Linked DNA regions of Homo sapiens. The protein of the gene in region 2 purifies or fractionates together with the protein of the main gene of each other region. This does not show direct contact. Each region holds a gene or a part of one and is shown on either strand. Other genes may lie near its edges.

Region 1 (2,292 bases), on a different chromosome or scaffold from region 2:
TCTTTTGGAAAGAGTGGTATATCAGCCTGGGTATCCCAAATCTATTGCATCAACTGCACGTTGGTACCTACTGAGACACTTATATGCCAAAGATGACTATGAGCTTATTGACGTAAGGCATTGATTTTATTTAAAATGTTTGAGGCATTGATTTTATTTAAAATGTTTTATCTTTGATCTAAGGGTTTTAGAGTTATTGTTCAAAGTTACTTCACTTTTATGATTGAATTTTTAAAAACTGAGTGTGTAATTTTTTGGCTAATAAAAGACTACAATGTCTACTGTTACATCTGTTGAAAATGAGAAATATTTATGCATATGGTTTAAAGGTTAAATATACAGTTTGTATCTTACCATGGGTTAGTTATGACATTCTCCTTTCGATATTAGAACATCAAAAGCTGGGGCTCTTTGGCATAAATAACAGAACTGTTAAAACCTGTATTTAAAAAAAGTTTAATGTTGATTTAACCTGTATATGTACAAGATGCCTTTATATGGGGAAACTATACAGGTTGAGCATCCCTAATCTAAAAATCCAAAGTCTGAAATGCTCCAAAATCTGACACTTTTTGAGTACCAACAACCTTGGGGTCGTGATCAGTTGTGAAGCATGTTGTAAGTAATTAGATACTAACCAGAGGTGACAAATGGTTTTACTTTTTTATTTTCAGTAATAAAATATAATAGATTCATGGATATTTTTATATATCTCTCTATTAATGCGTTCCTATAAGCTTTTTTAAGTGAAAGAGAAGGGTAGAATTTTAAGGAGCTTGTCTAATTGCAGGACTTTATCTTTGAACCAATGAGAACATCACAAGTTTAAAAGTCATCCATTAAATGTACTGAGGTTTGTAAAGAGTTGCGAACTGCTGATCTAAAGCCCTTACCTAGTGAAGTTTATAACAATACAAATATATGACCATCTAAACCCAACCTAAAGCAGTATCAAAAATCAACATTTTCTTTCCCTTTTTTGGCCAGAAGGGAATGACTTAACTATACTTTCTTTCATATTATTTATTTACCGTTGTTATTTCTTTATAAATTGATGGATAAAATATTTTGTCCAGTTTTTTATAAACATTGGATTATTTTATAGTAAGGAAGCAAAGAAAAAGCCGTAAGAATGAAGCAATGAATCAAGAGTTTTTCCCAAAGCGACATTTGTTTAAAACTATACTTATTCATTCCTTTTCTTTTTTAAAGAAAGGACTCTAAAGAAGTTGAAGGTTTTAACTGTATTTAAGCAAGAAGCAAGGCTAAGTAAAAATGGCCAGCTGGTAAACCAAAGGAGAGAATGTCCATGCATGAATTGTCACTGGTCTTGTATTAACATCACAATGATTATACTATTTTTGCCTGCCTATATTTCTCTTTTCCTGAAACCAGGATATGATATACCCCTTATAGTCTTTTTAACCCAGAGTTTCTCATCTTCAGAGATCTCAACTCAACCTACTGAGATTGTGGAATGCACAATTTTTTCTTAGGTGTGGGTTGAGGGTGGGTACTGTCCTATGCAATGTTGGATATTTGGCAGTATCCTTGGTCTGCTAGGTGTTAGTTGTATTTTTGCAGCCATTGCAGTGGAGGCAAATAGGCAGATAGGATGGAGTTAGAGGTAACAGAATCCTAATGGAATGTTCGTATTATCTTTAAAAAAATTGTTTGCCTTATTCTTGCCTTTACTATAAAATACATGTGACAGTTTCTACTCTACTTCTCATGCTATGGCTCTGGCATCTAAATATATAAATATATATGTATCCAAAATTATTTTGAATAATGTAGAGAATATACAAATGTATTGGGTTAAAATTTTCATAGCTTTAGCCAACAATTTTAAAAACACAATGAAAATCACTGAAAAGCTTTTTCAGTACCTACAGCATTTTGAAATACTGTTTGCCTTTTGGTGAAACGTAAAAGCTGAAAGAAATAGTAAAGAAAAGAATGCTTGGAGAAAGGCATTGTAATCAACATATTCCAAATCAAAAAGGTGGAACATATATGAATGTTGGGAGACAGTTCGCCGTGGATCTCTTGCATTTCTAAATATCCTGTGAGCAGGAGGCCTGATTACTCTTTGTTCTAGTCTATCTTTTCAAAGATATTCGTATAGTGAACATCCTTGGAAGACAGAGATAGTATCTCCCTCCAGAACAAAGGGTAGATATTCCTGTCCATTATAAAAGATTAAGCATCCTAGGCTTAGGGTTCCCTTCTTGTAATGCAACCGACTGCATATGTGGGAAACTATATCAGTCCATCCACGTCACAGACTGA
Region 2 (4,576 bases):
CAAAAATTAGCCCAGCATGGTGGCACATGCCTGTAATCACAACTTCTTGGGAAGCTGAGGCATGAGAACTGCTTGAATCCAGGAGGTGTCTGTTGCAATGGAGCGAGACTGCACCACTGCACTCCAGCCTGGGTGACAGAGTGAGATTCTGTCTCAAAAAACAAAAACAAAAACAAAAACAAAAACTATAAATAATAATAGTAATTGGCCTGGCATGGTGGTTCATGCCTGTAATCCCAGCACTTTGGGAGACTGAGGCGGGTGGATCACTTGAGGTCAGGAGTTCGAGACCAGCCTGGCCAACATGGTGAAACCCTGTCTCTACCAAAAATACAAAAATATTAGCTGGGCATGGTGGCGAATGCCTGTAATCCCAGCTACTCAGGAGGCTGAGGCGGGACAATCACTTGAATCCAGGAGGTGGAGGTCGCAGTGAGCCGAGATCATGCTACTGCACTCCAGCCTGGGCAACATAGCAAGACTCCATCTCAAAAAAAAAAAAAATAATAATAATAATTAATAAATAAATACAAATTGAGGCTGCTGCTGCATAGGGCATACAAAGAAAAAAATTAGGAATCTTCTAATGGTATCAATTATACTTTTCCTCCCCCCCTTTTTAAAAAAATACCAATCAGAGATTGATACTGATCATTCATCTTTCCTAAATTTCTACAAGGCTGCTCCGCCTGTCAGCATACAGTCAACCACCTACTAGAATAAGAAATACAAAGTGCTTACCCACAGTTGTTGACAGCCATAAGATTGGAGACAAGCACAAAGGGATAGGTCAACATACTCGCAAAAAACTGTAAAATGGAAACAAGGCAGCTGTTATTAGATCATTCCTAGTCTTTATTCTCCTTTCCTTTACCTTAAAGGCCTAGTGCCACTGCGGTGAGACACTCTAACACTTGTCTCGCTTCATCGGTACCCTGGAAAGACAACAGTTACAGTTTTGAGCCTGGAGATGCTTCTTCCTCTTAGCACACCACTGCATCCAACATTTTAACAAAAGGCCAGAAGAATTCTCTGATCCTGAGTAGCTGGGACTATAGGCGCACGCCACCATACCCAACTACTTTTTTTTTTTTTGAGATGGAGTTTCCCTCTTGTTGCCCACGCTGGAGTGTAATGGTGTGATATTGGCTCACTGCAACCTCCGCCTCCTGGGTTCAAGCGATTCTCCTGCAACCTCCGCCTCCTGGGGTTCAAGCGATTCTCCTGCCTCAGCCTCCCAAGTAGCTGGGATTACGGGCATGCACCACCATGCCCAGCTAATTTTGTAGTTTTAGTAGAGATGAGATTTCTCCAAATTGGCCAAGGTGGTGTCGAACTCCCGACCTCAGCCTCCCAAAGTGCTGGGATTACAGGAGTGAGCCACCGCGCCTGCCCCAGCTTTTTTTTTTTTTTTTCACTTTTGTAGAAATGGGGTCTTGCTCAGTTGCCCAGGCTGGTCTTGAACTCTTGGCCTCAAGTGATCCTCCTTCCTTGGCCTCCCGAAGTGCTGGGTTTACAGGTGTGAGCCACCATGTCTGGCCTGAACAATATTATTTCGGAGGAAAGGCACGCCCCTTATGAAAGCTAAGCAGTACCAAACCATGCAGGATGTGAGGCAGGGGTTCTGCCTTACTCTCTTTATTTTCACATGTGAGTCTGTGGTTCCTTCGAAAACTGAGTTATTCTCTCTTTTTTTTTGAGATGGAGTCTCACTCTGTCGCCCAGGCCGAAGTGCAGTGGCGTGATCTCAGCTCACTGCAGCCTCCATCTCCCAGGTTCCAGTGATTCTCCTGCCTCAGCCTCCCGAGTAGCTGGGATTACAGGCATGCACCACCACGCTCGGCTAATGTTAGTATTTTTAGTAGAGACGGGGATTCATCATGTTGGCCAGGCTGGTCTCGAACTCCTGACCTCAGGTGATCCGCCCACCTCACCTTCCCAAAGTGCTAGGATTACAGGCATGAGCCATGGCGCCTGGCCGAAAACTGAGTTATTCTTACCTTTGACAAATATAACAAATTTCAGGGAGATGTCCCAGTGAGACATCTGGTTATCTTAAAGCAGTGATGACACAAGCCAGATTTAAAAGGAAAACAAAACAAAACACAACTATTCCTAGAAGGTTAAAAGGATTTTAAAAAACTCACTCCTGTGACAGCTTGAGAATAACTCTTCATTTCATTCATGGTAGAAACCTAAAATAGGAAAAGAGCCTTAAATTAATTACCTACAACACTACAACACATCAATATATTCTTTTTTCCTTTTCTTTTCTTTTCTTTTTTTCTTTCAGACAGTGCCTCACTCTGTCACCCAGGCTGAAGTGCAGTGACCTCCTGAAGCACACATCACCACGCCCAGCTAATTTCAAAATATTTTTTAAGAAATGGTGTCTTTTTTTTTTTGAGATAAGGGTCTCCCTATGTTTGCCCAGGCTGGTCTCAAACTCCTGGGCTCAAGAGATCCTCCCACCTTGACCTCTCAAAGTGCTGAGATTATAGGCATAAGCCACTATGCCCAGCTAAGAGACGGTGTCTTGCTATGTTGCCTAGGCTGGTTTCAAACTCCTGGCTTCAGGCAAACCTCCCACCTAAGCCTCCTGAGTCGCTGGAATCATAGGCTGGAGCTACTGTGCCTTGCTCTCCATGTCAATATAGTCTATCTCTAAATTATCAGTTTGACAGCTTGAAAATTAATTTTTTTTTTTTTTTTGAGACAGGATCTCATCTCTCTTGTTGCCCAGGCTGGAGGTGCAGTGAGCTGTGATCTCACAACCTTGACCTCCTGGGCTCAAGTGACCCTCCCACTTCAGCCTCCCAAAGTGTTGGGATTACAGCATGAGCCACCACACCTGTCTAAAACTAATTTTGAGGACAAAACCATAAAACACTGATTATTAGAATAATAAGGCAGTGGTCAAAATGATCAACCTGATTCAATATTAACAGACAAATTCATATTATACTAAAATGCTTTAGGGACGAATGTAAAAGGATTTCAAATACTAAAGAAAATGAGATTGATAACCTTTTCACACATCCTAGAAATACAGTCCCTGGAAAACCACATTTATAGTATATCTAAGGGACAATTCACTACCTTTGTTTTACACAGCTAGCTTTCTACCAGATGCGTTGAAGAAAATCCCTCTCTGTACTCAAGAGGTTTACAACATGGATTTAGTCATATACCCTGTGATGTGTTCAATTTATCATCATGCTATGGAGCTGCCGACATACAAGAGGCCCCACAACTGCTGAGATAAGAAAGACAACTTCTAGATAAGACTGATTCTCAAAAGGCTGAGGTTTCTAGAAAGCCCAATACAGGCACCCTCTTAAGTCCAGATTAGATGAAAAGCCCCCGATACACCATAAAGATGTCCTGCTTTCCCAGGTTCTCTCAAGTTAAGTATCAGTAAAGAAGTGATCTCTTTAAAGCCCTGAAGTAACACAGGGCTAAGTCTCTTGGGTATACTCTGTCACATCTTACGGACTTTTAACGTGTATCGTTCTACAGTAAACAGTATCGTTCTACAGTGAACAGTATGCTCATTTCATTAGCATTTGAAAATTTGACTGATAATTTTTAGCTATATAATTGTTCAGTCTGGCATGTAGCAAACTGTCATCTTGTTTATTTATTTATTATTTATTTTTTGAAATGGAGTCTCCTTCTGTCACCCAGGCTGGAATGCAGTGGCGCGATCTTGGCTCACTGCAACCTCCGCCTCCTGGGTTCAAGCAATTCCCCTGCCTCAGCCTCCCAAGTAGCTGGGACTATAGGCACGCACCACCACGCCCAGCTAATTTTTTCTGTATTTTTAGTAGAGACGAGGTTTCACCATGTTGGCCAGGCTGGTCTCGAACTCTTGATCTCAGGTGATCCGCCCACATTGGCCTCCCAAAGTGCTGGGATTACAGGTGTGAGCCACCTCGCCCGGCCCATCTTACTTTAAAAGCTAATCTAGCTGCCAGATTAAAGCCAAGGTGAGCACATCTCACGAAGGTCACAACCTACCCCACTGTCCAGTGCATAGGTATTGACGAGGTAGGCCAGTGAGTTACACAGCCACAAAGAAAGGATGTCACCTAGAAGGCGAGGAACAAGACCCCTACATGAAGAAACAATAAAAATAAGAACCAAAAAATGTGATCAGTAACATGACAGGCTCTTCAGTACAAATGTTTGTCAAATAATTAGAGGTCACAAAACATTCTAGGGAAGTAAAAAAGGAATCAAACACCAGAATCCAGCCCGCATACCTAGTTCATTCTCGTTAACACAGCTGTACTTGAAGCTGATCTCCAGTGACTTTTGTTCCTATGTTTAAAATGCAGGTCGGCTATACCCTCAGTGGCTCACCTTACTATTCATAACTGTAAGCAGGGAGGCAAAAGATTTGCGAGGTGCTTTGCAGAAGAGACTTAAATATTGTTTTGCTTTGACTAGCTTAAAAAAATGATTTTGCTAAGCTATCTGATATTCATATTTGGCAGAGCAAAAGACGAGAAAAATTACAAAGCAAGAATGGTCCCAAGTACAGATACAGATGAGAGGCATCAAAAACCACATT

What was found. The genes of interacting proteins can lie anywhere in the genome.
Region 1: the proteins of MTCH2 (region 2) and SKIC3 purify together in Homo sapiens (affinity purification with mass spectrometry; one large-scale study listed by BioGRID and IntAct). This does not show direct contact.

The regions. Positions count from the first base shown.
Region 1 is NC_000005.10:95,465,686-95,467,977, reverse strand, and holds part of SKIC3 (superkiller complex protein 3), read left to right. Parts: coding exon 1-112; intron 113-2,292. UniProt on the Homo sapiens protein: Component of the SKI complex, a multiprotein complex that assists the RNA-degrading exosome during the mRNA decay and quality-control pathways.
Region 2 is NC_000011.10:47,624,933-47,629,508, forward strand, and holds part of MTCH2 (mitochondrial carrier homolog 2), read right to left. Parts: intron 4,115-4,576; coding exon 4,021-4,114; intron 2,196-4,020; coding exon 2,148-2,195; intron 810-2,147; coding exon 742-809; intron 1-741. UniProt on the Homo sapiens protein: Protein insertase that mediates insertion of transmembrane proteins into the mitochondrial outer membrane. Catalyzes insertion of proteins with alpha-helical transmembrane regions, such as signal-anchored, tail-anchored and multi-pass membrane proteins.